Linked DNA regions of Homo sapiens: region 2 is linked to region 1. The links come from fine-mapping of genetic effects on gene expression. A gene starts in region 1. The other region holds a variant in brackets. All regions are shown on one strand. Distances are from middle to middle.

The links. PIP is the estimated chance that this variant, and not a neighbour inherited with it, causes the effect. A credible set is the group of variants that fine-mapping cannot tell apart.
Region 2: its variant is the best candidate, but not a certain one, in a credible set for the expression of TBCEL in whole blood (INTERVAL, PIP 0.79).

What each region holds. Positions count from the first base shown.
Region 1 is chr11:121,016,771-121,033,169 of GRCh38, reverse strand. TBCEL (tubulin folding cofactor E like) reads right to left here and starts at 9,068. Exons shown (of 9, transcript NM_001363644.2): 1 at 8,879-9,068. TBCEL-TECTA (TBCEL-TECTA readthrough) reads right to left here and starts at 9,068. Exons shown (of 30, transcript NM_001378761.1): 1 at 8,879-9,068. RefSeq lists silencers at 8,815-9,084, 9,105-9,254.
Region 2 is chr11:121,068,675-121,085,073 of GRCh38, reverse strand. All of the region lies in intron 7 of TBCEL-TECTA (TBCEL-TECTA readthrough), which reads right to left. The region is part of intron 8 of TBCEL (tubulin folding cofactor E like); the gene reads right to left. Among named protein-coding and RNA genes, the nearest start is that of TECTA, 24 kb to the left of the region's middle. The variant T/C (reference allele first, on the strand shown) is at 8,084.

The DNA of each region.
Region 1 (16,399 bases):
CATGATTATAAATATAATAAAGGTATTCCCAAAAGTCTTTTTATTGACATAATGGCATCTATCAGAAGACTTAGTATTACAAAGATTCATAGCATTATTCTCTTAAAATAAAATGCTATAAAGATATGTGTAAATATGACAGAGAGGGGAAAGTGCTAATGCTAAGTTTCCTAAAAAACTACCTCTCTCCCAGTATTTCATAGGTTGAGTCTCATTCTTCACAAATTCCCTATCTACAAATTTCCCTACTTGCCAAAAGGTACTTGTTACAACAAAATCAATACTTGCAGCATTTTTGTGGTCATTTGCAGATAAGCACAAAGTGACAAAAAATTTGAGTTGTTCAACGGGTATGTTCCCTGCTGAGGTAGAACAAGGTGGCACTACGCCTTCTTGTTTCAGCTCTCAAAATATAAACAAGTGTCCTTTCCATGATCTATCTAGTGCCATGCTTTTCATATTTTTGTGCTTTTTGTTGGTGACTTCACTATTTAAGTGGTCCCCAAGGGTAGTGTTGAAATGCCATCTAGTGTTTCTAAAGCATGAAGCACGAGGAAGCTGCAATATGCCTTATGGAGAAAATGCACAATTAGATCACTTTATTCAGGTATGAATTTAGGGCTGTTTGCAGTTAATTCAATGTTAACGAATCAATGATACATATTAAATGTCTTTAAACAGAAACTAATATAAAACAAAATTATCTATTTATCACTTGACAAAAATGTTATGATCAGAGGCTCGCAGGAACCTAATCCTATATTTCCCCTAGGAGTAACAATTTCCATATTCATTAATTCACTGTTCATGGCAACTTCACATAAAAGTACTGTAAATAACAAGAATCAACTGTATTCTGTTAAACAACCCTGGGGAAGAAAAATAGACCAATGAAACAGAGAACAGAGCCCAGAAACATGCCCATGTAAATATGGCAGGGAAGCAGCACAGAGATCACTAGAAAAACATTAAGCTATTCAATAATTGGTGCTAGGACAGTGAATAACAATCTGGGAAAAGATGAAATTGAATCCTTACCAAAAAATTCACCTCCACATAAAATATGAAAGCAAACTTTATCTCCTTGAGAAAAAAATAAGTTATTTCTTCTAATAGGAAAAGAACTTTATGATCTTGATTTAGGGAAATATTTCATAAAGAAAACATTTTTAAAATCCATAAAAATAAAGTTAAGCAGCCAAATGAAAACTTGGCCAGTCATGGTGGCTTACATCTGTAATTCCAGGACTTTGGGAGGCCAAGGCAGAAGGATCGCTTGAGCCCAGGAGTTCAGGACCAGCCTGGGCAACATAGCAAGACCCCATCTCCACAAAAAAATCAGTCGGGCATGGTGGCATGTGCCTGTAGTCCCAGATACTTGGGAGGTTGAGGTGGGAGGATCACTTGGGCCCAGGAGGTGAAGGTTGCAGTGAGCAGAGATCATACCACTGCACTCGAGCCTGGCAACAGAGCAAGACCCCGTCTCAAAAAAAAAAAAAAAAAAAAAGAAAGAAAAAAGAAATACTTTCAATCATCAAAAGACATTAAAAACATGAAAAGACAAGCCAAAAACTGGAAAAAAGATACTTGCAACACGTGTAACTAATACAGAGAACTCTTAAAAACAGTAAGAAGGAGGAAGACAACCTAATAGGAAAATGGACAAAAGACATAAACAAGTACTTACTAAAAGATAAAATTAAAATGTTTAACATATGTAAAAGATGCTCACGTTCAATAATTTTCAGAGACAAAAATTAAAATCTCAATGAGATACCATTTTATGCAAATCAGCAAAACTTAAAAACTCTGACAATACCAAGTGTTGGAGAAAATGCAGAAGAACAGAAACTGGCAATGTAGCCAGTGGGAGTATCAACTGGTACAAACACCTTGGAAAATAATTTATTACTGTCTAGTAAAGTTGAAGACGCACATACTCTATGATCTAGCAATTCCACTTCTCAGTATAAACTCTACAGGAACTTGTAGTGTGCACCAGGAAATAAGTAAAAGAATGTCCGTAACAACAGCATTGCTTAAAACTGCAAAAATCCTGGGAGGATTGCGGTGGGGGGGAATGCAGTGTGGAGAAGCCCTTATATCTAAGAACAGGCAATTGGGTAAATTACAATATATTCATAAAATAAAATGTTACACAGCAATGGAAATTAACAATTGGTAGTTCATTATGCCTACTTCCTCATCAACATGAATGGCTTTTGAAAAACAGTGTTGATTTGTTCACACAGGGCAGAAAAATAAAACAATGCTGAATGGGTAAAAAAAAAAAAAAATCACAAGAATATATACAGTATAATTCCATTTATACAAAATTTTAAAACATGGAAATTAGCCATCTTATCATTTAAGGTTGCGTACATATATGGCAAAAACTGTAAAGAAAAGGCAGAGAAAAAAACACAAAATTCAGAATAGTGGTATCCTTAGTGGATAGTATGATCAGGAAGGCAAAAACAGAACTCTGAATTCCCTCTCCAAATCTGCTCCTCTTCCACTCATTCCCATCTTGGAAGTTATATTTGACTTTTCTCTTCTTCTCATACCCCTGTGTAACTAATCAGCAAGACCTATCAATACCACATCCAAAATATCCCAATTTTGCCCAATTTTGTCCATCTCTATTACTTTATTCTTGTTCAAGCCATCATCAACTTCTCACCAGGACCTCTGCATTAGCCTCCGCCCTGGTCCCTCTTGACTCTTATACAAATCATTCTCCACAAAGCAGCCAAGTGATCTTTTCAAAATTTAAGTCAAATCATGTCCTTTACACTCTCCAATGGCTCCCCTTCACATGCAGAATAAAATCCAATCTCTTCATCATGGTCGCCAAGGATTCATTTAATCTGATCACTGCTTACATCTCTAACCTCATTTCCTCCCACTCCTTTCCTGGCCCACTACTCAGCCTCCGTGGTTTTCTATTTCTCAGACTTGCCAAGCTGATTTCCCCCTACAGCCTTTGCATTTGCAGGATTGCCCTTTTCCTGTCTCTTGGCAGAGCTGCTTCATCTCAGTGTTTAAGTCTCAAATTTAAACACAAATGTCACCCTCTCAAAGAGGCTGCTTCTGACCACCCCATCAAAAATAGCACTACTGCCACCATCACTCATAGTCACTTCACCCTCTGTCATTCTTTATAGCACTTATCATAATCCGTTAGTTCAGTGTTTGTTCTCCAGCAGAAGATAGGTCCCACACAAGCAGGGATTTGTCAGTCCAGTTCAGTTTTGTGCAGAGCAGTGCCTGGCATATGATTAAAAAATATTCATTGGATAAATGGAAAAGTGAATTTCATTATCAATAGACATGAAGCAACACCTTCTGACAGTGAAATGAAAATGAAGCTCACCAATGGCAGAATGAGAAGAAAAATTTTGAAAATCACCGGAAACGCATTATTCCAAGAACAGTTTTAAATAACTTTTCACAATAGTACTTGTTATGGATCACATTCCTAAGAATGATTAGTGATTAATCAAAGTTTCACACAGTTTTAAGATCCTGAATTTGGGAAATGGGCTACCTGTTTAAATTTCATTTTTAGAAGAGCACTGTGATTAAAAGCATGGTCTTCAGTTAGTTCTGAGTTCACTTATGACTACTGTGTAATTTGAACAAGTTACTTACCTATCTCTATGCCTGCTTCCTCACTTGTAAAATGAAGCTATTAATAGCCATTTCACAGTTATTGTGAAGACTACATGAAATAAAGTTTTTGAAGCATCTAGTTAAGTACCTGGCATGAAGTAAGTGGTCAATAAACTAGTTATTATTGTGAAAGCTGAGACGTCCAGACAAATGGAGGAGCTGATATGAGTCAAATAAACAAACATCCTCCCCTTTTGGCAGAGGTGGGAATACATGCCAGGATTAAATCGTTTTTCCCTCCAAAAAGACAAATGTACACAAAGGTAATATATAAGAAGCATGGACAAAGGACTTTGAGAACACTGAGGGAGTGACTGTCTTCACTAAGGAGGTCAGTCACATGTAAAACTGAGTTTTACAAGACAGCAGCAGAAATGTACTAGATGAAAAGAAGGGGAAAGCATCTGCACAAACACAAATGAGTGAGAAATGCAAAATAAAGTGAGAAATGTAGTGTAGTTGGTGTAGAGTATAGAGTATATGTGGGAAGACGGCTAGAAAATAAAGAATTGGTAGGGCCAGATGGTAAGGGGCTAAGGTCCACCATTCAAAAGTTTGCACTTTATTCTTCCATCAGTGGGGAGATGAAGGGGAAAAATCCTAACATGCTAATTTGATACCAATTCTTCTAAAGAAGGCGGAAACACCTTTATGACTTTAAACACCACATAGGGCCACAATCTGTTAATGTAAAATAGAAAATATTTTAAGCCTTAGTTCTTAAAACCATATGAGCAATTTGTTTGTTAACAATGACTGATCTGGAACCTCTCTTCATGATGTTTTATTATTACTGCGGTGACCACTGTTGTGCTAGGCATCATCATGACAGCAGATAAAATCTATTGTAAGTTTATTATGTGTTGTGTACTGTGTTGTTTTATATGTATTATCTCACTTAGTTATCACAACACTTTTATAAGGGGTACTATTATCCCATTTTGCAGATCAGAAAACTGAAGCAGAGAGGTTACGGGCCCAGAGCTAGTGACAGAGCCAGGACTCAAATCTAGGCTGACTTCAAGGCCCTAAAATTAAACCAGTTTGCTGAATTATGATATTGCTCAGTTCATTAACATCACTTGCTGAAAAGTTATTTGAGTACCTACTGTAATTTAAAGCATCAGGCTAGGTCAGTGACTTTTAACTTTTACTGTATGGAAGAATCATCCAGACAGCTTGATAAAATGCAGATTCCTAGATTCCACCAGAGATTCTGATTCAGTAAGTCTAGGTCAGAATTCAGGGATCTGCTTTATTTTATTTTATTTTATTTATTTATTTATTTTTTTAAACAGTGCCTCACTCTTCTTGCCCAGGCTGGAGTGCAATGGTGTAATCATAGCTCACTGAAGCCTCAACCTCTGAGGCTCGTGATCCTCTGGCCTCAGCCTCTCAAGTAGCTGGGACTACAGGCATATACCACTATGCCTGGCTAATTTTTTAATTTTTCATAGAGATGGGTCTCCCTACGTTGCCCAGGTTGGCTTTGACTCCTGGATTCAAGCGATCCTCCTACCTCGGCCTCCCAAAGTGCTGGGATTACAGGTGTGAGCCACAATGCCTTGCCGGATCTGCATTTTTAACCATACGTTCAGTCAATTCTGATCTACTTGGTCTATGAACTACGCCCTGGTAGACCCTGTGCTAGATGTCCTAGTTTTTCATGGATATTTGAGCCTCCTGTTCACCACGCATTTATAATCTAAAAGGGATAAAAATAAGGTGCACAAATAATACAAAGCAATATAGCAAAGGCAGTACAGACAACATAAGCAACAAAGACTTCAAAGAAGAGGGGTCATCTGAAATGAAATGAGAGTGAGTAGGATTTCATGAAGAAAGGGAACATTTTATATGCAGACTTTCAGGGATAATTTTACACACAAAGGAAGGTACATGAGCAGAGGCCTTGGCAGGTAGAGGAACTGCATTTAGGAGTGTAATGATGATGCCAGAAAAAAAGTAGAGGAAGTCTGTAGAAGGCCCTAAATATCAAGCTAAACACCATGGGCTTTATTCAGTGCCTGTACTGGAAAGCAGCTAATGGTTTTTGAGGAGGGAAATGAAATAATCATAGCAATATCCTTTGGAAGAGTTCTCTCATGAAGCTATGCAAGCAAAAGACAATGGGAACAGTCCAGTTATTACCATTCTAATTCCAAAGAAGTAAGTCAGAATGGGTAGCATGAAAAAGGGAGGAATAGTAAATCTCAATAACTAATCACGTGTAGGAGAAAGGCAACAATCGCAAATAAGGATTCCTTCACCCTTTAAGCCCAAATTGTATCACTATCAGTTTCACATTACTTCTTATACAGCTAACCAGGCCCAAAATATATAAAGAGTTCACTTATTTAAAACACAGCCCAGGACTAAGTAAACTGGTCTCTAAGTAGCCAACATACATGTCACACAGTTCACACACTAAGAAAAGGAAAAAAAAGTATTATATAACAAATATAAATATCTGATTTTCAAAACCATAGTAGTTTGGAGGCAAAAATTAGAAGGAGAAAAGAGCCTGCTACAGGTGGACAGGCTTAAGAGTCTAAGGATCAGAGAAGAAACAAAAACTATTAAAAAGCACACACAATCACTCAGGGTCACTTCTCCGTAACTGTTTATTGACAAGTACATATGATTCCCAGAAAAATGAAATAAATAAGAATCTTCCTTAATGTTCCAGGCACCTACAAAACAAAATCTTCTTTAAACATTCATTAAAGCTAAATATTTTAAAACAAATATTTCCCTGATTAAGAGGTCATTTTTAAAGGATGGCTGATATATGCCAGCATAACGCCTCTATCAGTACCTAATAAATAATTAAAGGCAAGAAAGATTTATAACACACAAAGTTCAAAGATGATAGAATGTTTTCGTAAAGCATTTGATCAAGAATGTGGCCCCACTGATGAAGTTTTAACTTGGGTACTTCTGTCCTGATGACCGTGTCTTTGAATTCTATGTTACAAATAATACGAACTCATCCTCAAAAAAAGAAACGCTATTAAACTGGTCTTAAATACATACCCTGTGTACCTACTGAAATTAGACAACATCCTTTGACACTCAATGTCCTGCAGCAATAGGCTATGTAACAACTTTTCAAAGGACTTTAACATTACAACATTTAACATTACATGAAGGACTCTCACTTTGTTCACCAACAGTCATTAATGTTTATTATGAATTAATACTATTTTTCTAAGGACCCCACCTAAAATTTTTGTAAGGGGAATTAAGATGTTAACTGATTGAAAGTTATACTTAGGTTTATGATTAAGTTTATATACCAAAGCCGTAGACTGTAAGGCTTTTAAATATGTCTATGGCTTTGGTATATATTTTATCGTGTATTTTTCATATATTTTTCATCATGTAGCAAAAAGTATATCATAATAATTACTGCAGTAAGAAGAATTTGGGATGTTTTTAAATAGCAGAAAAGAAAATCAGTGTATCTTCACAACATTGGAACAGTAAAATAAAATTTCTTTAACTATGTTGTGATAAAGCAACTAAGTGGAACTAGGCCTCTCATATTTCTCAGACACAGCAAAGGATAAAGGAAACTAAAACACACACGCATACAAAAAATTTCATCAATCAAATGATCAGGCAACATCAAGATATTAAAGATCAAGATTATGGTCCTTCAGAAAACACAGGTCAAATATGCTACGTGGTATAAACATCTAAACCGAAGCAATCAATTGCACCTAGCTGCCCTCCTCCCTCTCCCCCGGCCAAAATAAAATAAAAAAAAAAAAAATCCATCTCCTTAGAATCATCCCTGCTCTTTAGAAGCTTACAGAATGAGGACACTGATTGACACCAAATAAATGTGCTTCAGAAACAGTGTTTTTCAAACTGCAAGTTGTGACCCACAAATCATCAATTTAGTAAATGTCAGCCAGCATTTTTTTTAATGCAAGAGGGTGGAATATAATAGAAATTAGCAGAACATATCACATATAATAAGGGTAAATACTGCTTTGTGAAAGTTTCCCTTCATACCTACGTATGTACTAGATCTGAATGTAAGACATACTTATTACTGTGGGGCATAATTTTTTTTTTTTTAAGTTTGAAAGCTACCACCCTAGAGATCTGGGTCTAATGCATCTCAGGACCCAAAGAGTGAATGTTTTCCTTAGTCCTCAGCACCTATTCATACTCTTTGCTCAAGATAGACTACTGGAAACGTAAGAGCTCCACAGCAGCATGACATGAACAAGGGACAAGCCCCAGCTCAGCCTGTATTTGGACTTGAAAGCATTACCAACTTCTCTCAACAGCCCTAGGCGTTGCCTACAAGCTCTTTGTAGCCTAGCAACCTTCACAGTAGAGCTCCTCCTTTCTCCACTGACTGTATACAGTTCAACACTTCCAACCAACTTTCCTCAACTACAACTTCTGGAATCACTGTGTCCCAAGAAAAGACTATTAAATCTCCTCTCTTCACCAATTCCCAGAATGTCTTCCTACTAGCGGACCTAGAACTCAACAGAGAAGCTCCACACAGATCCTTACTTCCCCCAAGATCCCACGACAAGGCACCCGCCTGTCAGTCCAACACCCTCGTTCTCAGTCTCCCAACCTTGGGGCAAATCTTTTCTCCCAAAAGCCCTTATTCAATTACCACATCCACATCCTTTTATCAGCCCCTGGTAAGAGCAGGCCTAATGTCCCAAGGGCCTAGACATGCCCGTCCTTCCCCCAGCAAACCTCCCTGGGGACATGTCCTCTTTTCTGGGATTCAGTAGTTCAGAGACAAGTTTCCTATTTCCCCAGCAGTCCCAGACACGTCTCCCTCTTCTAACAGCTGGGAGGCATCTACCCATCCCCCACGCTGGGGCAAGGTGAGACGCCTAGATTCTCCCAGGAACCCGGGCAGGCTCCCCAACACGCCCTCCTCCAACCCGGGACCAGTCCCCCAGCCCAGCCCAGCCCAGCCCAGCCCAAGACCCTCCCAGCTCCGCCATAGCCCAGGCCAGGCAGGCCCCATCCTCCCTCTAGCCCCAGGGCAGGTCTCCCATCCCCACAGCTGCTCGAGACAGGCCCCATGTGGCTTTCACCCTTCCCCGAGTGTCCTATCCCAGCACCCTGCAGGAGCGACCCTCCGCGCCTCGGCTCCAGAGGGGAACGCCTCGGGCCTCGAGAGCCCGGCAGAGCCAGCGGGCCCGGCTCCACTCACCCCTCAGCCCGGGAGGCGGGGGAGCTACTGCGGCGGCTCCTCTGGCTGCGCCTCTCCTCCCCCCTCCCGGCCACCGCTGTCGCCGCCGCTCAGCCTCGGGCCTGGTCCCGGCCAGCCCCGGCCCGGCGCCGCTTCACCTAGTCCCCCACTCTGGCCGCCGGAGCCCAGTGTCCTGCATTGACCCGGAAGCAGCTTTCCCGGCCCAACAACAACACGTGACCCCGCCGCACGTGTCACGTCCGCTGCGTGAATGGGAGGGGGCGCCGGAGGAGCGGGTCCTCCCCAACCGCGCTGGGGTTGCCATGGCGACGGGGATGGCTGCACTGGCTTAGGCTTTACCACAAACACCTCATCTGCTCTTTCTCGTGCCCACCCATTGAGTGGACAATCCCCAGGGGCAGAACAGGAGTACACATTGTCATATCAGAGGACAATAGGGGCTGCAGAAAAGAGCATTGGGCTGAACCTTTCCAGAAACACTTGGAATCTTGGCCTGGCTCTGTTACTGATTTGCTGTGTGACCTTGACCAAGTCTCTTCCTATCTCTGGCTTCAGTGTCCTCAACCATAAAATGAGGGAACTATACTAGATGAGCCCTCAGGGTATGGTGGCAGTCTGACCTTTCTTCTGTGCCCCCTTCACAAGTGGCATCCCGAGCTTCCAACACCAATGTAGTAACAGCAGCTTTCATTTATTGAGCACTTTCTAGGTACAGGCACTGCGCATGTGCTATTTTTAATTTTTACAGCCCTCCAAAGAGATGGTATTTATAGAATTGAAAACAAGTTCAGAGTGCTTAAGTGATCTGCCCAAGACCACCCAGTTAGTAAATGTGACCAGGGTGAGATTTGAATCCAGGTCAGGCTGGCACCAGGGTCCATGCACTTCACTTTATGCCACGCTATTGCTCCAACTCCATGCATAGTATTACTATATCTGACTGTTGAGCTGTGATTGCTTATGTACTCCTTCGTCCATTTCTTTTGCAGAAACATACATGGAATAGGCGTGGTGCTGGCTCAACCCCAAGTGAATTCAGCCTTGTATGGGAATGTCCCCTGAAGTGCTAGGAGATGAAGATGTCTTTGTGCATAAAGTGTATGTGCTTCTGTGTGGTGTGTGCCAGAAAAGACGTGGGGGATGTAATGTGCATGTGCATGTCTGCATTGGTTTCTAGAAGGGGGAAACAAAATTATTTAGGACAGACCCAATAGCACCTTACCATCATCAGTTCCTGGAGACTTATTTTTGTCATTCTGTTTTGTTTTCTCATATCCCATAGGTAGGGTTAGACAGGGTAGAGAGGAAAAAAAAAAGCCAGAAGGTCATGGGTAAAGAAACTGCTCTGAGTATAAAGGGGATGATTAGCCAAGAATTGTATCTTAGGTTGCTCAGGAAGGGGCTTTACTCCCCCTTCCACAGAGAACAGAGTGCCTTTCTTGGCAATTTAAGAATTACTGGCTTTCAGAGCACTGAGATCATTAGCATTGTGTCCGGAATTGGTGGGTTCTTGGTCTCACTGACTTCAAGAATGAAGCCGCGGACCCTCGCGGTGAATGCTACAGCTCTTAAGGTGGCGCGTCTGGAGTTTCTTCCTTCTGATGTTCGGATGCGTCCGGAGTTTCTTCCTTCTGGTGGGTTAGTGGTCTCGCTGGCTCCGGAGTGAAGCTGCAGACCTTCGCGGTGAGTGTTACAGCTCATAAAAGCAGTGTGGACCCAAAGAGTGAGCAGTACTAAGATTTATTGAAAAGAGCAAAAGAACAAAGCTTCCACAGTGTGGAAAGGGACCCGAGCGGGTTGCCACTGCTGGCTCGGGCAGCCTGCTTTTATTCTCTTATCTGGCCCCACCCGCATCCTGCTGATTGGTAGAGCCGAGTGGTCTGTTTTGACAGGGCGCTGATTGGTGCATTTACAATCCCTGAGCTAGACAAAAGGTTCTCCACCTCCCCACCAGATTAGCTAGATACAGAGTGTCCACACAAAGGTTCTCCAAGTCCCCACCAGAGTAGCTAGATACAGAGTGTCCATTGGTGCATTCACAAATCCTGAGCTAGACACAGGGTGCTGATTGGTGTGTTTGCAAACCTTGAGCTAGATACAGAGTGCCGATTGGTGTATTTACAATCCCTGAGCTAGACATAAAAGTTGTACACGTCCCTACCAGACTCAAGAGCCCAACTGGCTTCACCCAGTGGATCCCGCACCGGGGCTGCAGGTGGAGCTGCCTGCCAGTCCCGCGCCGTGCGCCCGCACTCCTCAGCCCTTGGGTGGTGGAAGTGACTGGGCGCCGTGGAGCAGGGGGCGGCGCTCATCGGGGAGGCTCGGGTCGCACGGGAGCCCATGGAGGGGGTGGGAGGCTCAGGCACGGCGGGCTGCAGGTCCCGAGCCCTGCCCCGCGGGAAGGCAGCTAAGGCCCGGTGAGAACTCGAGCGCAGCGCCGGTGGGCTGGCACTGCCGGGGGACCCAGTACACCCTCTGCAGCCGCTGGCCCGGGTGCTAAGCCCCTCATTGCCAGGGGCCGGCAGGGTCGGCCGGCTGCTCCGAGTGCGCGGCCCGCCAAGCCCACGCCCACCCGGAACTCCAGCTGGCCCGCAAGCGCCGCGTGCAGCCCCAGTTCCAGCTCGCGCCTCTCCCTCCACACCTCCCTGCAAGCTGAGGGAGCCGGCTCCGGCCTTGGCCAGCCCAGAAAGGGGCTCCCACAGTGCAGCGGTGGGCTGAAGGGCTCCTCAAGTGCCGCCAAAGTGGGAGCCCAGGCAGAGGAGGCGCCAAGAGCGAGCGAGGGCTGTGAGGACTGCCAGCACGCTGTCACCACTGCCAGCACGCTGTCACCTCTCAGCATGGCCACAGTCAAAAGTAGCCTCAGTGGTGAGGACCATGAGAAGAGCGGAGTAAAATGTACAAGGTGGATGCTGCATGGATACTCTGTTGACAGACTTACTTCTGAGCTCAGGTACCTTTGGGGACACCCAGAAACGCTTAAGAGGCTAGTTGCCCTGTGAGCAACTAGGAAAAAAGCAAGAAATATGGGTCATTACTGTTAACAAATACTATGTGCAACGTATATAAATACATATATGAGTATTGTATGTGGCTGGGTGTGGTCGATTATACACTTCTTTGTATCTCTGAGATATCCTCCAGTCATTTTTCTGCTTCTTTTCCCATCTTTCCCCTTATAGATGAAACTTCTAAAGACAAGATCAATGTCTCTACCCACCTCCCATCTTTCTCCCCAAGACAGCCAGAATTATCTTTCTAAAACTTACATCTGTAATCTCAGCACTTTGGGAGGCTAAGGCAGATGGATCAAGAGGTCAGGAGTTTGAGACCAGCCTGGACAATATGGTGAAAGCCCGTCTCTACTAAAAATGCAAAAATTAGCTGGGTGTGGTGGTGCAAGCCTGTAATCCCAGCTACTCGGGAGGCTGAGGCAGGAGAATCGCTTGAACCCAGGAGGCGGAGGTTGCAGTGAGCCGAGGTTGTGCCACTGCACTCCAGCCTGGGTGACAGAGCGAGACTCTGTATCAAAAAAACAAACAAACAAACAAACAAAAACACATATGTGATTGTGTTATTCTCTGGAACTTAAAACCCTTTCAGGATTCTCTGTGGGTCTCAAGATAACGTCTATTATTATTAATGTACTTCTCAAAATTTTTCCAGATCTGGACCCTGCTGACTTTTCCAGCCTCATTTATCACTGCTATTTGCTCTTCTGTATCTGCTCTGTTCAATCTGGTCGCCACTAGCCACATGTGGCTATTTAAATTGAAATTAATTAAAATTAAGTTAAATTCGAGTTTCATTTCCTCAGTCACTTGACACTAGTTACATTTCAAGTGCTCAATCACCATATGTGGCTAGTGGCTATCATATTGGACCGGGCAGATACAGAATATTTTCATCATCACAGAAAGTTCTATTGAACTGCACTGCTCTATACTCACAAACCTTCCTGTATGATATATTCTATAGGAATTCCCTCCACAAAGCCATTTACTTCAAATGTTCTTCTTTCACTTCCTTGAGACAGAAAATTATACATAATAGCTTATTTCCTTGTTGTTTCTTTGGCGAGCATGTAAGCCTCAATGAAGGCAGGAGTAGGTCTATCATGTTCACTATTGATTCCGCATTATTTCTAAAGGGCTATCATATAGGAAAAGGAGAGAATGGACGTTGAACTAAACTGAGAGAAAATAACAGGCAGATTTGTGGCCATTTTATTAGATATTATTATTATTAATTATCATTTTAGACAGGGGCTCTCTCTGTCGCCCAGGCTGGAGTGCACTGGCACAATCATAGCTCACTGCAGTCTCAAACTCCTGGGCTAAAGTGATCCCTGCTTCTCAAGTCTCCCAAGTAGCTGTGACTACAGGTTTGTGCCACCATGCCTCCCTAACTTTTTTTTTCTTTCTAGAGATGGGATGTCACCATGTTGCCCAGGCTGGTCTTGAGCTCCTGGCCTCAAGCGATCCTTCCACCTTGACCTTCCAAAGTGCTGGGATTACAGGCATGAGTCACCAAGCCCAGCCAAAAAAATATTCATAATTCGATCACTTTGACTTACAAAGGGCAATTTCATACAGTGCAACCTAATAATAAGGAAGAACTTCGGGAGAATTGGAGCTGCTTTAGTCAGTTCTAGTTAATTCTCTGCCATTGGAATAGGTTGAGCAAAGGCAGAATCTGTTAAAACAATATGTGAACAATTCCTGGATCAGAAGATTCGAAGTCTTCTAAGATTCTCAGTCTATGTTTCTCCTACTGGATCTTTAATTCAGAGTCGAATATGCCATAACAAAAATCATAGCTACTTTCTAAGGTTTTACTATGCCAGACGCTGCTTGAGACATTTTATGTAGATTACTGTTTTTCCCTCAGTCTTCACAATGATCTTATGAAGTATGCTTAATGCTATCAGATTTACCAACTAAGACTGAGGTTGTCATACACCCAGCAACATACAACTAGTAAAAGGCAGAGTCCATATTCACATTAGGTCAGTCTGAAATCAGCATTTTAGTTCACAATGACCCTGTATTATGAGATATAGTTCTGTCATGAAGTTTCAGCCAGATATTTATTTGCATGTCATTTTAATTTAACAATTGCTTATTTTGTAAGAGTTTTGTTCCTTGTACTTAGCTAGGTGGTTTGGGGAAAACAAAGACAAATAAGGCATGGTCTCTACAATGTAATTGGAATGGTAACAGTGATACATGGCAACTTACGGGATGTTATTTTTTAAAAGGAGATAAGGGAATTATCTTCACAGCTGAAGGCTCTTCCCAAGTAGACAAGAGGATAAGGACATAATTATATGAGAATTTAATGTGAACAACAGCAGTGCACAGATGGGAACACAGGGGAAGGGAAAAGCAGCTGCTTCACTTGAAAGAATAATGGCTGGTTTGGTGACTGTGTCTTTAATACCATTCCTGGTTTTTCCACTAACCAGCTCTGCCTCTTAGACTGTTTCTGCCTGGAGCATTATCTACCAAATAACAGAGATTGGATAAACTATCATGGCAAACCACCTGAAATTATATATATTGTGTATATTACACATGTATGCATTTTTAAAAGGAAGTGTCCCAGATTTCATCAGATGCATGCACACACACACACACACACACACAAATTCTAAGTCAAAAAAATGTAGAATGGATGACCCCTTTAAATTTTGCAATTCTCAGATTCTATATTTTATTTTTGTCAACATTATTGACATATTTGTCAGGAGCTGTACTGTCATGCCAAGCCTAGTGACCAAGCAAAGGACAAAGATTTTTAAAATTTTAAACTGGGGAGTCATACCTAGAATTATTTAGAAAGAATCAGTATTTCCTTACTGGGCAGAATATGGTCTTTAAAAAACAACTCTTAATTTGTTTTTTTGCAATTTGCAATAGACCAGCCACAAAAAGCTTAATTTTCAAGAAGACCTTACATTAATTAAAATCACTTGCAACAAATTGCTAGAAGTCTCACTAACCTCTCATAATTTTTTTATTGTGAAGAATAACATACAGAAAAGTGCACATAGTGTACATAAATGCACAGCTCAATGAGTTCTCACAGGTAAGCATGTAACAACCTCCCATTTAAGTCATAGAACATTGCCAATTTCCCAAAGACTTCCCCCAGTACCTACACTCACAATTCTCCCCAAGTTAATTAACTGCTATTCTGACTTCTAATAGTGTAGCTTATTTTTCCCCATTTTTAAATAAATGAAATCAAACGAGATGATTTCTTTCACTTAATATTATGAGAGTCATCTATTTTGGTCCATGTAGCTATAGTTTATTCACTTTTGTTGCTACATGTATCTTATATTATAGTAACACTCTATTTATTTATCCATTCCACCACTGGACATTTGTGTTGTCTCCAGGTTTTGGTTATTATGCATAACACTGCTATGAACATTCTTGTGCTTGTCATTTAGGGCACATATAAACATTTCTGTTGGGAATATACCCAAGAGTAAAATTGGTAAATCCTAGCTTTAGATCAGCGTTGTCCAAAAGAAATATAGTACAAGTCAAGTCAGATATGTAGTTTAACTTTTTCTAGTGGCCACATTAAAAATATTTTTTAAAGTTAAATTAATATTAATCATGTATTTTATTAACCCAGTATATCCAAAATGTTATTTAGATATTTTGTTATTGTTTTCATATTAAATTCTCAAAATTCCATGTATAATCTACACTTAGAGCAATTTAGTCTAGCCACATTTCAAATGTTCCAGAACCAAAGGTGATTACTAACTACCATATTACCATATCTGCTATTATTTGGTTTCATTTACTGTTATTTTTCTAATTTTCTTATTTTCTAAAAAGTCTTTAAAGCGGTACATCTCTAAGTACAGCATTAGTTGTGAGTCACAGTTTTGATATGTACATTTTCATTATCATTCCACTTTAAACATTTTCTGATTTTTTTTAATTCATTGATGTGATGGATAACATTAATTGAGTTTTTAGTATTGAATCAGGCTTGCAAACCTGAAATATATCCCATTTGGTGTAGTATATAATTCTTTCTGTACATTGTTGGATTTGATTTTCTAATATTTTGTTGATGACTTTTGCATATATGTTCATGAGAGATATTGCTCTATGGTTTTCTTTTCTTGTAATGTCCTTGTGTTGTTTTGGTATTAGGGTAATGCTGGCCTCATAAAATGAGGTAGAAAGTACTCACCTGTTTCTATTGTCTTAAAAGATTATAGATAATTGGTGTAATTTCTTCCTTAAACATTTGGTGGAATTCATCAATGGACCCATGCTGGCTTAGGTGCTTTATGTTTTAGAAGGATATTAATTATTGATTTAATTTGTTTAAGAGATATAGGCCTATGCAGATTGTCTTCTTCTTGTATGAGCTTTGGTTGATTGTGTCTTTCAAGAAATCGTTCCATTTTTTTCTAGCTTATCAAATTTATGGGCACAGAGTTGTTCATAATATTCATTTACTATCCTTTTCATGTCTTTGGGATCTGTA
Region 2 (16,399 bases), 52 kb before region 1:
GAGTGAGACTCCATCTTAGAAAAATAATAATAATTATTATTATAATTATATATATATGCATATTTATATATATGATTGAAATCTACTTAGGTGGGACTTCAGGATGTAAGGATTTTAGCAAAGGCAAATAAAACAAAACAAAGCAAAACAAACAAAGACAAAGCTGCCAGGACTTGAAATTTTCCAAGGCTCTAAACTGAAAAGGTAAGATGATTCAAAGTCTAGGGGTATCTTTTCCCCACCCCATATCCTAGTATATGCCTTCAAATAACTGAAACTAGGTTATGAAAATTTAACAAAATCTCAGAAAAGACAGCAGAACCCAGTGGTCAAATAAGAACTGAACCCAACTCTAGAGATGTTTTACCTTCAGACTATGGAAAAGTAAAATTGTAATACCCTAGCTCTCAAATTTTGCCTAGGAGTAACAAAAGAAACAATGTCAAAGTGGACAAAGAGAATTTACTCATACTACATTTCAACAAAGAGATGACATGAAGACAAGTGACCACTTCAAGCACAAGCAAGATAATGAGACACAAAATGGCAACTGAGCGCATATCACAGCAAAAAGAATAAAGGAGAGGAACACATAATAAGTAAAAGACAGAGGCAGAACTCAATTTGAAAGAAAACACAACTGAAGAAAAAGAAAACACTCCACAAAACTCAAAAGTCTAGAAATTAGTAAGTACTTGAATATAAAAACCAGCGCTCAAAGACAAATGATAAACTGCAGAATGAGATGAAAATGGAGACTGTAGAGCTAAAGAAACAAACTGAGGAGCAAACCACCACCACCACAGACCCAAATAAATGAATCAGAAAGAATGGCCCAAAATTATTATACCTAACCTAGTGCTTTGGTTTGAATGTGCTCCCCCTCACCAAGCTCATGTGCTGGAAACTTAATACCCAGTGCAACAGTGCTGACAGGGGGCACCTTTTAGAGGCGACTAGGTCACAAGGGCTCTGCCTTCATGAATAGATTAACGCTGTTATAGAGGGAGTCCACCCGTTATCCTGGTAAAGTGAGTTCAGCCCTCTCTTGCTCTCTTGTCATTCCTCCTTCCATCATGGGATGATACAGTAGAAAAGCCACAGCCAGATGCTGGCACCCTGATATTGGACTTTCTAGCCTGCAGAACTGAGAAATAAATGTATTTTCTTTATAAATTACCAAGTCTGTGGTATTGTTATAGCAACACAAAATGAACTAAGGCACCAAGTTTTTTTTCAGAAATAAATTTAACAAGCAGATATTCTAAAATGAGAAATAAGAAACAGAGCACCATGAGTCCTTCTGGTAAAAAACAAAAACAAAAACAAAACCCCAATACTCAACAATGAGATTAAAGAACTAGGGATAAGCCCTGAATCTAAATATAAAACTAAAACATAGTAACAACTGTATACTCCTAGACTCATTTATACTTGACATTATAGCCAATTGAATTAATCTCAACCATAAACATATTTGTACACAAAATTATGACCTACATTCAGAAATTAGCCTACCTTCCATAAATGGGCAAGTACATCTAAAAATTAAATGACCTATAAATTCAGACACTCTGAAGTCTCAGTTTTCTCAAAATCAATAGGTTCAAAAATAATTGCCACTCCCCAGCTGTGTTCTCTTCTAGTCTTTCGTATCTCAGTAAGTGGCACTGGAAACTATCTAATTATCCTAGCCAGAAAGTGAACAGTCATTCTTATTTCTTTCTCTCCTATCTCTTCTCCAATTCAATCAATTCAATCAATTACCACATTCAATCAATTACCACTTCCCACTCATTATCTTCCTACGTATCCCATCAATCTATCTGCATTTCTCTTGTTCACCCACCTCACAAATTCAGGCCACTATAATTAATAACCTAGATTGCTACAATTTTTTGTGGCTGCATAAACTAGATGAGCTTTCTCAATATCTGTTTCAACCTCCTCCTGGTAGGCCTTCCTGTACTACCAAGACTGAAAAGCTGAAAAATACATTTCCCACACTCTCTTGCCAATGAGATTTAGCTTCTATCAGTCACAGCCCTGGAGAGAGGCAGTAGATCTAGTAGATAGAGTGTGGAAACAGTTTGGGTAGAGGCTTCCAAATGACTAGATCACACAGTTCAAGCAGTCTGTTTCTAGAGTCAAGGACCCCAGCAGCAGCTTGCTGATCTCCAGATCACAGCTAAAGTGGTGTGATCAGCACCAGGGACAGCAGCTTGCTGATTTTCCCTTTCCCTGATTCCTTACAAAGGTGCGCAGTGCCCTTGGTGGGCCAGTTCCATGGTACTACTCCAGAGTCAATCCTAGAGAGGAGGCCTAAGTCTGCTCCTCCAGCCCTTCCACAGATTTTGTAAGCACTTTATTCACTGTATGAAATCCCTTTCTTCTTAAAATAGCTGATGGCTTTCCACGACCTCAGGGTGGCCCCAAGACAATCCTTGTCTTTATGATAGCCACAGGGTTTGTTATAAAGCACAAATTGTATCACATCACTCCTCTACTTAAAATCACGTAATACCCATCAAAATAAAGTCCTAACTCTTCAACATGATTGTGGTAAGCAGAATTTTGGCTCCCATATCTGGGTAGGCCTAATCTAATCATATGAGCCTTCAAAAACAGAGTTTTTCCAACTAGTAGCAAAAGAGGAAGTCAGAGAGACTCAAAGCACCAGAACCTGACACACCATTGCTGGTTTGAAGATGGCACACATGAAAAGTATAAGAAAGAAGAGAATTCTGCCACCATTCTGACTGTACCTGCAAAGAGATTCTCCTCCAGAGCCTCTGATATAGAAAACAGCCCTGCAGACACATTGATTTTGGCCTTGTGAGACCCTAAGCAGAGAACCCAGCTGAGTCACACTGTGCCCAGACTTCTGTCCCACAGGACTGTGATTATACTAAGTAGGCATTGCTTTAAGCCATTAAGTTTATAGTAATGTGTTATAGCAGCAATAGAAAACAAATACAATAAGCATAAAAAGCCCTCCATGATCTGGTTCCTTCATAACTTTTCAACCTTATTTTGTGTCATCACCATTACCATTTTCTGCACCTTCCTTTCCACTTGTTTAAATCTTAAAATCAATGTTTATTTATTAATTTATAGGTAAGGCCAGCAGACTTTTATAGATGGGTTAGGCTTTGGATGTGGGCTCTGAGAAATATTCACTATTAAATACAAAAGAAGAAAGAGTACTAGAGTTGTGATTTACTATACATACATATATATATATGTTCCCTTAAAAGTTACATAAATAAAAATCATGGTTTCAAGATAATCTGTTTTCTCCCAATTTTCTTATTTTCCACTTATCTTTAAGCAGGAAAGATTAGTAAATATAAGAAATCATGATTTTACAAAATATCCAGTAAATTTGAGAAAGCAATTCTCTCCTAGTCTTTCAGCTTATATATTTTATTCATTATGCAAAAGTCCATCCAAACTGAACTATACTGCATGCATTGCATGCCTGAGCTTTTCTTAGCATTAGTTCCAATGTCTTCCTGAAGTATACTCTGAAGAGGTAGATGGTTTCTGCTGACTAAGCATTCTCTGAAATTAATGATTTTGATTTATATTCTACCAATCAGTATCTTCATCTGACCATTAACAAGTATTTAATATTCATAAGCCCCACTTCTGAAGTGTGCAAAGTGTTATAAACCTACTTTGGAAAATATTACCGATAAGGATGTATTACAATCATCAAATGCTAAAATGTAAAGTACGCCGTATTTGTGTTCAGAAGTTCTCTGGTCCATTCCACCATGACCTTCTAACAGAAAATGGCCAATCACAAGTAAAAAAAAATTTACTACAAACAGCATAAAGGCCAGCATAACCACGTGGGCAACTGAGAGTGATAAATGGAAACCAAATGCTAGCTGCAACCTTGTGAAGAATACCACCCACAAGCAAACTGGTGTGTTTTTTCCCCCTTCTTATTAAATAAAAACACCCACTGAGAGAAAAGCTTCTTTCAACCTTAGGGGTCTTTGAATCATAAGCAGTTAGAAATCAGGCTACCAGCAGTGTGGGGTTGAAGGTGATACTAACAAAGAGGGGAACAGAGAATGAAGCCACCTGTGGTGGAACCAGGCTAGCTCTACTCCCAGTGCAAATAAGCAAGCCTTCATACACTCAGGTCCTGGTCCATGGCACACCTGTCTAATGTTACATAACAGCAGATTTTAGTAGCACGGTGGTCATTTTTAGGAGAGGTATGCCTGTTTCTCCATCTTGCCAATCCTCACTCTTGATTCCCAAGACCTGGGGGCATTTCCTCAATCACAATTCAGTCACATGTACTCCAGAATAGGAAGATGTGGTACACTATTTGAAAAAGACTACAGGTTCCTGCCATATGTCTTAGTCTGTGTTTCTATTTATTATAAAACCTAAAACAAACATTAATTTTTTCTCAGGTTTGATTAGCCTTATAAACGATCCTAACTAAATAAAACAAAGTATATATTTTACATAATTTTTAGGAAATTGTAAAATGAAACTTTGTCTAGAATCAGGGACTTTCCAATGGCGAAGGCATTCAGATTTGGACATCAAATCTCCAAATTCACAATCTTTAGGAGTATCCTAGAGAAAAATAAGGGGATTTACATTTTCTGCAGGTGGCTACGCAACAATGGGATCATAAATATCCCAGAAATACTCTATTTATCCCTTACAACTGTCTAGAGGTGTATTCATGGGTAGCTTACATAGTAGTCTCAAGTTAACAATTCTGTTAATCTATCATTCCTGAAATGCAGACACACATTGAATCAACCGAAGTCTTTACTCTAGGTAATGCTATATTACTTCCAAATAAATCCCTAATACATACATCTCTCTCTTTAAGAAATGTAACAAACAAAACATGAAAAATCCCAGATGGTTCACTTGGTTAAACCAAATCTTGAAGTTTAATTAACTAAAAGAAAAATACGGCCAGGCATGGTGGCTCACACCTGTAATCCCAGCACTTTCAGAGGTCAAGGTGGGTGGACTGCCTGAGGTCAAGAGTTTGTGACCAGTCTGGCCAACATGGTGAAACCCCGTCTCTAGTAAAAATACAAAAAAAATAGCCAGACGTGGTGGTGTGCGCCTGTAATCCCACCTACTCAGGAAGCTAAGGCAGGAGAATTGCTTGAACCGGGGAGGTGGAGGTTGCAGTGAGCCGAGATTGCACCACTGCACTCCAGCCTGGGTGACAGAGTGAGACTCCGTTTCAAAAAAAACAAAACATTTATCGAGTTTGTTTCCCAAGGCATTGGGAGGGATTCAAAAGTACATTCAAAACATCTTCTGACTGCTGTTTTCTAATGTCTCTTGCTATAGTATGCTTTCTCACTTTTGATGTGGCATCATATCCTGGGACATCAAAGAAACATTCTACAACTGGGACTTGACAACCTACTCAAGGATTTCTCAAGGTCACCAACATTCCACTTATTAAAACACATAAGCATCACATTTTATAGGTAGGAGGAATCTTAGAAACCATCTATTACATAATTTACAGATGTAAAAATTGAGACCCAGTTTGTTAACCCAAAGCCTCATAGCTAGTGAAAGGAAGGGTGGAGATTACAACTCAGGTTTTATTCTGAGACTATCTATCACTGTTTTAGTTTCATCATCTTAGTGGTTTGCTGCAATAATAAATACTGTTCTAGAAATTATTTTCTCATTCCTACATTTCAAATGTCCCCATTCAATCTCTCTTCAAGGGTTCTCATTTCTCTTATTATCACCTACACTTGGGGAGTCCTAAAAATTCACTCCTGGGCTCTCTTTTCTTTTTATGAGTTCCATCACAGAGCTCATTCTCCTACTTACCTGAAGCCATAGATGTTTCCCACTTGTCTTCCCCAAATATCTGCATTTCACCTACCTCCAGAATTATTTAATGTCACCTTTCACACATATAGCAAAGTATCTTGAAGTGAATTTAGTATTTTCCATTTAGTTTTTCAACAGAGCTTAAGTCATGGAACTACATTTGTTTCAACTATTTCTTAAATTCAAGTGCTATCAAAAATCATCTAGTAATGGATAAACAGAATGTGATCTATTCATATGATAGAATACTATACAGCAGTTAAAAGAATGATTTTAATCCACATTTATCAACATGATGCACTTTTGCTCCAAACATAGAGTAAAAATTGATAAAATGTAAAAGGCTGAAATCTAAGAAGATATAGCCAGTCTCAAAAATGATAAGCATCTCCATGGACCAGAAACTGAACAGAAATACAAATCATAGAACTAAAACTACAAGACCTCCAGGCTAGAAATCTAGAGCAGCAGAAGCAGTAAGGAGTTCAGGTCATACAAGGCAAAGGAGATGGAATGTGCTTCATGGGAGGCAGGGGAACTACAGACAGGTTCCCTGCTTGAAGTAGGGGTAGAATTGAGTGATGAGAGGCTGTGCATGAAATGAGGATGAAAAAAAGAAAACTCCTGCAGATCCACTGCCTAAGGCTACCTTTGTAGAGCAATGGTTCTAATAAGTAAAGGAATAAAAAGATAGCTCCACCACCAGGAACTGAATTAAATCACTTGGTGCTTAAGACTAGGAATATGCACTAGCTCTGTAATTACTGCAGGACAGGTTCTCCAAATTCCATTATAAGAGCTGGTTCTGGACCAGGAGTTAGGGGAGCTGCTTAGAGGCAAATGCAAAACCATTAGACAGGGAGAGACGAGCTCCAGCAGAAAGACGTAACAATCCAAAATGCATATGTATCTAAAAACAGATATGTACACAAAAAATAATGAAGCAAAAACTGGTAGAACAACAAATAAAAATAAACAAATTCACAATTATTGTTGGAGAAATCAATACTCCTCTCAGTAATTGATAAAACCGGCAGACAGAAAACTGTTAATGATATAAAAGACCTGAATAACATTAACAACTTGACCTGGTATTTATAAAACATGCCCACCAACAATATCAGAATACACATTTTTTTCTACTGCATATGAGATACTGACCAAGAAAGACCATATTCTAAACCAGAAAGGTACCTCAAATATACCACAACAGACTTTAAAAGAATTGAAATAGTAAAACGTACGTTCTCTAACTATAATGAAATTATACTGGAAATAATTAACAGAAAGATGACGAAAATCCCTGGAAAGATAAGGAAAATATCTGGAAAATAAACAACATACTTGTAAATAACCCAATGAGTCAAAGAGGAAGTCACAAGATAAATTAGAAAATATCTGAATTCAATGAAAACTAAAATATAACAAATCCCAATTACAGAATGTATTTAAAGCAGCACTTAAAGGAAAATTTATAGAATTAAATATTATAATAGAAAAGAACAGTCTCAAATCAATGATCTATGCTTAAAAAAACTATAAAAAGATGAGCAAATTAAATCCAAAGCAACAAGAAGGAAGAAATAAAGATATGAGCAGAAATCAATGAAATATAGCAAATAAAACAGAGAAAACTCATAACACCCGAAGCTGGTTCTTTAAAAAGGTTTGCAAATTTGATAAACCTCTAGCTGGACTGATTAAGAAAAGATGATGCCAATATTGGCACTATAAGAGGGAACATCACCACAGACCACATAGACATTAAAGGCTTATGATAAGCAAATACTATGAAAAACTTTATGCCCATAAATTCAACAAGCATAATTAAATGGATGAATTCCTTCAAAAATACAAACTACTAAAGCTCACTCAAGAAGAAACAGATAACTTGAATCATGCTATATGTCCATTAAATAAATTTAATTCATAGTTAAAACCTCCAGCAAAGAAAACACCAGGCTCAGATGGCTTCACTGATAAATTCTACAAAATATCTTAGAAGAAAATAACACTGTTCTACACAAACTCTTCCAGAAAAAAAGGAAAGAACACTTATAAATGAGGCCAGCACTACCCTGATATCAAAATAAGACAAAGACATTATAAGAAAATTACAGACCAATATCCCTTTATAAGCATAAACACAAAAATCCTTAACAAAATATTAGCAAATCAAATTCACCAACATATAAAAAAAGATACTACATCATAACCAAGTGGGATTTAT[T/C]TTGGGAATTCAAGGCTGGTTAAAAGTGCAATTAATATAATTCACTATATTGATACATCAAGTAAGAAAAATGGTATAGACTTTTCAATAGATGCAGAAGAAGCATTTGAATAAATTCAGCACCCATTCATGAAAAGCTCCAGCAAACTTGGAATAGAAGGAAATGTCCTTAATCAAATAAAGGTCATGAACAAAAAAACCTATAGCTAACATCACTTTTAGTGGTGTAATGAATGATTTTTTCCTAAACAGGGAAAAAGGCTAGGTGTTTGCCATGACTACTCCTATTCCGATACTATATTGGAGGTCCAAGTCAGTGTAATAAGGTCCAAAAAACAACAAAAATGTAAAAAGTCATACTGGTTGGAAAAGAAGACATACACTGTGCTAAGTAACAGACAATATGACTGTCTACAATTTATTAAAAATCTACTAGAATTAATAAATAAATTTAGCAAGGCTGTAGAATACAAAGTCAATTACAAATACCAATTGTAATTCTATGCCTAGCAGTGAACAACTGAATTTGAAATTTTAAAACAGTACTACTTATAACAGGGCCAAGATACATGAAATCCTTAAATAAAATGTAGCAAAATATGTGCAGAATCCTTATGTGGAAAATACACAACACCATTTTTAAAAAAAATACTTAAATAAATGGAAAGAGATACTGGGTTCATGGACAGGAAGACTCAGTATTATTAAGATGTAAATTCTGGACAAATTATTCTATAAATTCAACACAATGCTAATCAAAATCCCAGAAGAATGTTTCACAGACTTCAACAAGCATATCCTAATATTTATATGTAAGGCAAGGAATTAGAACAGCTTAAATCATGCTGAAAAAGATCAAAGTTGGAGGACCCACACTACCTTAATTGAACAGTTACCATAAGGCTATAGTAATCAAGATGGTGTGGTACTGGCAAAAGGACACAGACATGGGTCAATAAACACAGAATACAGAAATACGGGCCACCTATATGATTAGTTTATTTCTGACAAAGGTATAAAATCAATTCAATAGAAAAAGGATAGTCTTACCAGTGAATATTGCTGGAGTAACTGGCACCCATACGCCAAAACAAAACACTTAATCCGTATCCTACCCCACACAGGAAAATGAACTGTACCATATAAGCTAGGTGTGTAGTAGACTATACTATCTAAGTTTATGTAAGTACACTTTATGATGTTCACATGACAAAATCGCCTAATGATGCATTTCTCAGAATGTATCCCTGTCATTAAGCAACACATGACTGTACTTAGGTGTAAATCTAATAAAAGATGTATAGGACTTGTACGTTGAAAATTACAAAATGCTAGTGGAAGAAATCAGAGAAGGTCTAGACAGAGAGACATACTGTATTCATGCACTGGAAGATCTCACATACTAAAAATATTAACCTTCCCCAAACTCATCTATAAGTTTAATAAAATTCCTGTCAAAACTCCAGCAAAGTTTTCTTGCAGACAGAGACTAAATTAGCCCAAAATTTATATGGAAAGGCAAAGGCCCTAAAATAGCTAAAACAGTCTTGAAGAATAAAGTGTGAGGAATCATTCAACATGATGCCTCAGCTTCTCCCAACACTAAGCTTTTCTCAACAGATTTAGGTTGAGGTTCATTTTTTTTGCCTATAGTGATCCAGTTGCTTCAGCACTGTCCATTGAAAAAGCTGTCTTTTCCCCACTGCATTGCTTTTCTACCTTTTTCAGAAATCAGGAAAGTATATTTGTTTTGGTGTATTTCTGGTTTTCTTTTCTGTTCCATTGATCTGTATGTTTGTGACCAGTATCACAATCTCTTGATTACTGTGACTATATAGTAAGCTTTAATTCATGTTGAATGAGGTCCTCCAGACACACACAATAAAGTGCACAGAACTTAAAACATACACACGCCCTTGTGTGTATGTTACAGTTCTCACACAAGTGAGTGTGTGTGTGTATGTTTTAGTTTGAGAAGTCTCAGTAAGATCACTGGACAATATCCACATTAAGATTCTGGTTGTGATACTGTACTGTGGTTCTGCAAAATTTTACAATTGAGGGAAACTAGGTGAAGGGTACACAGGATCTTGCTGTATTCTTTCTTGCAACTGCATGTGAATCTACAATTATCTCAATAAAAATTTCAATTAAAAAGAGACTACATACATGATTCCATTTATCCGACATTCTGGAAAAATCAAAACAGCAGGGACAGAAAACAGATCAGTGGTGGCCAGAGGGTAGGAGTCAGGAAGAAGGGTTGAGGAGTATGAGATTTTTTTGGATGATGGAACTGTTCTATATTCTGATTATATTGGTGGTTCTATGACTGTAGTGTTTGTCAAAATTCAGGAATGTACACTAAAAGGGGTAAAATTTATGTCACATACTTCAATCAATCTGACTTTAAACAAAGGACACTACTAAAAGATAGTCATTAGCAGGGCTGATTAAGAAAAAATGGAAAGGCAGAAATAGACATTATTATGAATAAAAAGATGAATATTGATATAGTACATTTTTAAAATCACAAAGACCCTCAACACAGATGCTATTGAAGATCTATGGTTAAATGAAAAAGAAAACATAGAGTACAGAATGTATTGTTTTGTGAACACTTGTGTACAAAAATTACGCACAAAATAGCGATGGAAACTATAACAAGAAAATAGTATCAGTGGCTGCCTAGGGGCCAAATACTTGATTAGCTACTAAGGATACAAATGGGAAGAAGACTTACTTTGTAGTATACATCCTTTTTAAAATTTCCAATCAGGTTCCATGTGGAAGTATTGCCCATCCAAATGAAAATTAAATATAACAATTCAAAAATTAAAACACCTACCCCCAAATCGTAAGTGACTATTAAATTTTAAATCTGAATGAAACAGTTACTTAGTAGAGAAAATATGAAATCACGAACTCAATTCAATTTTGAAGCTAGTACAACCTTCATAAAACCAGACAAGAACCACAAAAAATTACAGACCAATTTTACATATCAAAATAGATGGAAACATCCCAAATAACATTATAAAATTAAATTCTACATGTTTAAAAAGAAAATTTAATATTTCCCAACCAAGTTGAATATACCAGGAATGCAAAAATGGTTCAATACCTGAAAATGTATCATATTAAAATTTACAGAAGAAAATATGCTCATCTCAATGCAAAAAGAACATTCTACAAAATTCAATGTCTACTCGTAATAAAAGAAACTCTTAGAAAAATAGAGATAGAAACCACCTGAACCTATCAGAACCCTATAGCAAAAGTCAGCATTCATATCTACATATTGAAACTTTAGATGCATTCCCTGTCAAGTGAGGAGAAAGATAAAGATGACCTCTTTTACTGCGCATTTTAAATATTATACTGGAGGTCATATCCAAGAAAAAAAAGAGGTATAAAAATTATGTATAGATATGACTGTCTAAATAGAAATCCAAAAGAAAATGAAGATTAACTACTCTATATGTAAGACTGACAGACACAGGATCAGCATAAAAAAAAGACATTTCTATAGAGCAACAATAATCAATTAGAAATGATAACAGAAAAAATGATTTCACTTCAAATAGCAACAAAATGTTTAAGATACCTAAAAAGAAACTTAACAAAAATGCAAAGGCCTTTGCAAGAAAATTAGAAAACATTACTGAAGGAAATAAAAAATATTCTGAGTTAAATGAAAAAAACATTCTATGTTCACAGATAGGAATATACAATAGCATCACAATGTAAATTCTCTTCAAGTAAGTAAATAAAATTCAATGTAATCAAAATCCAAATTACAACAGGATTTTTATAGAACTTATAAGCTGATCCTAAAATTCATATAGAAGAGAAAAGGGCCTACAATAATTAATACAATCTGAAAAGCAACAACAAGGTAGGGAAACTTACTGTTATTGGGAATTAAGACTTAATATAAAGTAATTTACCAATGTTGTAATAGTACAAGGGATGGACAAATACACCAATGGAATAGAACAGGGTCCTGAAACAGAAGCATACATACAAAAAATAAGACATATGACAGATGTGGCATTGCAGATCAGTGATAAATACCAATTATCCATATGGGGCCAGATCTCTATTTGAAACTATACATAAAAAGTAATTCCAGGTAGATTTAAGTCATAAATATAAAAACACCTTTAGAAAAAAATTAGGAACTTACGTGAACTTTGGGGGAAAACAGGTTTCTTTAAAAAGATGCAATAAGAATAAACCACAGAGTTAAGGATAGACAAATCAGACATTAAAATTTTAAAGTTTTTTTCAACAAAATACGAGGTGAAAAGACCAGGTTGAAAAGCCACAATATGAGGGAAGACAGAGCAATTCATACTAATAAAGAATTATAAAATGCTACTTTATGTTTTAATGGAGATATAAAATATGAAAAATAGACATCAAGCATACAAATCAAATTTCTGCTGGTGGTTACTTCTTGGAGTAAGAAATAGGACTGAGAGTAGTAGAAAAAAGCTATTCCAATTTTATGTATAATATTATTTCTTTTTAATGAAAAATAAAGTAGAATAAAATATTAACTATCATCAGTTCTGAACAGTGTGAACAAGAATGTTTTATTACTCTCAATATTTTTTAGTATTGTTTTACTGACAAAAAGCAAACAAAAACGAAAAAGATAAAACTGGCCCCTTGCCCTGGCCAAAACAAAAGTTCAGACAGCAAAGAAAATTTCCTCCAAGCCCATGATTTGGGAGGACTGGCTCTCACTCTCTCTTTCCTTTCCAAGTATATCCAAATACTTGTATATGACTCCAATCAAGATTAGGAAGGTAGTTTGCCTTCTGCTGGGCTGGGAAAGTGGCAAGAAGTCAAAATAAAGTCCAAGGTAACTGGAATGACAAAGGCTGTAAGCAACAGGGAAAGCTAACATTTCAGAGGCTCTCCATGGTGCACGAAGGAGAATGCCCCTTTTGTTTCTCCTCAGACTCACGGCTGAATGTGAGGAGTGCTAGGAGTGCTGTGTCACGGCCCTTGTCAGAGGATGATGGAGCATGGCAATATGGAGAACCCCAGGAGACTCATGTCCAGTATAGAAATGTTCCTTCACAACAGCAGGTCCTCTGTCTGGAAGGAATATGAGGTAACGGACACAGCACACTAAGATTTCTCCAGCATCCAAGACAAAATAAGCCTTCATTGAGGTGGTGTCCAAATACAGGCTGCTGCCTGCTCTCACAATAACATGGAGATACAATCAGCTCTATTTAGAAAAGCCATTAGTCTTAAGCAGGGAAAAACATACTCTCCATATTTTAAAAAGCATACCACTAATGACAATCAAATCAGCATTTGAGGAATTCCTAATGTAATCCTTGCCATCATAAAGGATTTCCCAGGACATAGTTTAGGGATTACTTGGGACAAACAGAAAATAAGGTACCAAAGAAAAGAAAAGGCAAAGAAAAGCCTCTAAGAAAACCTGTTTCTGGCATTGCCACCGTCTCTGACAATGGTACTTCCTCTTTCCATCAAATAATTGTTCACTGGAGCTATTTTAAGACTCCTCCTTATGATAAGCAAAATTTTAAAGTCTGAAAAGGCACCCTAAATCAATGCATTTACTTCCTACCACTGCCCTCAAAAACAAAAAGAAATCATTGAGTTCCCAAAGATACATGATATGCTGACTTCTAAAAGTTGCATTTTTTTTCTCTTTAAAATTAAAGAGGATGACTGTGTATTAGGTAAGCACTAAAGAAGCAATTTAGATTCAATCTATCAGAGGAAATGGAGAGAGAAAGTAAACACAAAATGAAGGGAACACTGAAAAATACAAGCAATGTGGATAGACATCTGATCAAGGGCAAGGCAAAAATAATAAACATGTACACTTGACTATGTGCCAGACCCACAAACATGGAGGTTTCTTTCTCTCTAAATGATATTTCTATACCCTCAGAGAAATCAGGGCTATAAATACCAGACAACAAGTACAACTTCACGATGTGTTTTCTGAGGACCAGTTCAAATTCTAGAGTGAAATTCAGTCTTAATACACATAATCTCTCTAAAAAGACATAAGCAATCTCCACCACACATATCCTCCTTTACTAGTCTCAGTTTTTAAGTCTCTGGGTCTCTCTCAGCTGCTGCCTTTTTTTTTTTTTTAAATACTTTAAGGTCTAGGGTACATGTGCACAACGTGCAAACATGTGCCATGTTGGTGTGCTGCACCCATTAACTTGTCATTTATATTAGGTATTTCTCCTAATGCTATCCCTCCCCCCTCCCCGAATCCCACAACAGGCCCCCGTGTGTGATGTTCCCTGCCCTGTGTCCAAGTGTTCTGATTGTTCAATTCCCACTTATGAGTGAGAACATGCGCTGTTTGGTTTTCTGTCCTTGCGATAGTTTGCTAAGAATGATGGTTTCCAGCTTCATCCAAGTCCCTACAAAGGACATGAACTCATCCTTTTTTATGGCTGCATAGTATTCCATGGTGTATATGTGCCACATTTTCTTAATCCAGTCTATCACTGATGGACATTTGGATTGGTTCCAAGTCTTTGCTATCGTGAACAGTGCCACAATAAACATACATGTGCATGTGTCTTTATAGTAGCATGATTTATAATCCTTTGGGTATATACCCAGTAATGGGATCACTGGGTCAAATGGTATTTCTAGTTCTAGATCCTTGAGGAATCGCCACACTGTCTTCCACAATGGTTGAACTAGTTTACACTCCCACCAAGTATGGAAAAGTGTTCCTATTTCTCCACATCCTCTCCAGCACCTGTTGTTTCCTGACTTTTTAATGATCGCCATTCTAACTGGTGTGAGATGGTATCTCATTGTGGTTTTGATTTGCATTTCTCTGATGGCCAGTGATGATGAGCATTTTTTCATGTGTCTTTTGGCTGCATAAATGTCTTCTTTTGAGAAGTGTCTGTTCATATCTTTTGCCCACTTTTTGATGGGGTTGATTTTTTCTTGTAAATTTGTTCAGCTTCTTCTTCTATATACAAACCAAAATCTCTCCACTTAACTTCCCAACTTGAAACCTTTCAATGGTTTCCCACTGTCTATAAGAATAAGCCCTACTGTCCGAGCACAGCATACCAAAGTCTTTCACGGACTGCCCTGTTTCCTACCTTCCTCCCCAGCATAATATGTATCATTACTTCCCAGTTATTAACTACTTTTTTTTTTTCAGACAGTCTAGCTTTGTCGCCCAGGCTGGAGTGCAGCGGCACAATCTTGGCTCACTACAACCTCTGCCTCCCAGGTTCAAGTGATTATCCTGCCTCAGTCTCTCCAGTAGCTGAGACTACAGGCATGCACCACCACGCCTGACTAATTTTTTGTATTTTTAGTAGAAATGGGGTTTCACCATGTTGGCCAGGCAGGTCTCGAACTCCTAACTTCAAGTGATCCACCCACCTCGGCCTCCCAAAGTGCTGGGATTACAGGAGTGAGCCACTGTGCCCAGCTCCCACTTACTACTTTTCACTAGTCATATCAAATTGTTGTAGTTCACTGCACATAAAGACATTTCATACCTCTGTACCTTTACTTCCCATGTACTCACATCTGTCTAGAATATTCTTCCCTCATCGTCACCAGATTAACTCAATCATTTTCCAGGAAAGTACCCTCTTCCAGCAGACCTAAGTCCTCCTTAGTGTTCTCAGAGTATAAAGCGAATATTCAATCATCTTACTGAACAGTTGCTATACTGCCAGGCACCGCTCTAGGCACTGGGGAGATGGCAAGGTACAAAACAGAAACAGTCCCTACTCCTATAGAGCTTACAGTACCATGGGGGGAGATTGACAATATACAAGAAATGTAACTCAGGTGTTGATAAGTGACAAGAAAAATATTAACAAAAGGAGGTTAAGAGAATTATAGGAGACAGAGGTGTGCTATTTTAGACTGGGTGAGGAGAGAAGGAATCTCGGATAAGGTGTCAGCGAGGGAGAGAATGAAGCAGGTAGCCTGGTGCATTCTCAACAGGGAACAAAGTGCAAAGGCCTGAGGAGGGAGTGTGCTTGAAGTGTGTCAGGAACAGTAAGGACAGTTTCTGTTTTTTGTCTGTTTTTTTTTTTTTTTTGAGACGGAGCCTTGCTCTGTCACCCAGGCTGCAGTGCAGTGGTGTGATCTCAGCTCACCGCAACCTCCGCCTCTCGGGTTCAAGTGATTCTCCTCCCTCAGCCTCCAGAGTAGCTGGGATTACAGGTATGCACTACCATGCCTAAGTAATTTTTTTTGTATTTTTAGTAGAGACAGGGTCTCTCCATGTTGGTCAAGCTGGTCTTGAACTCC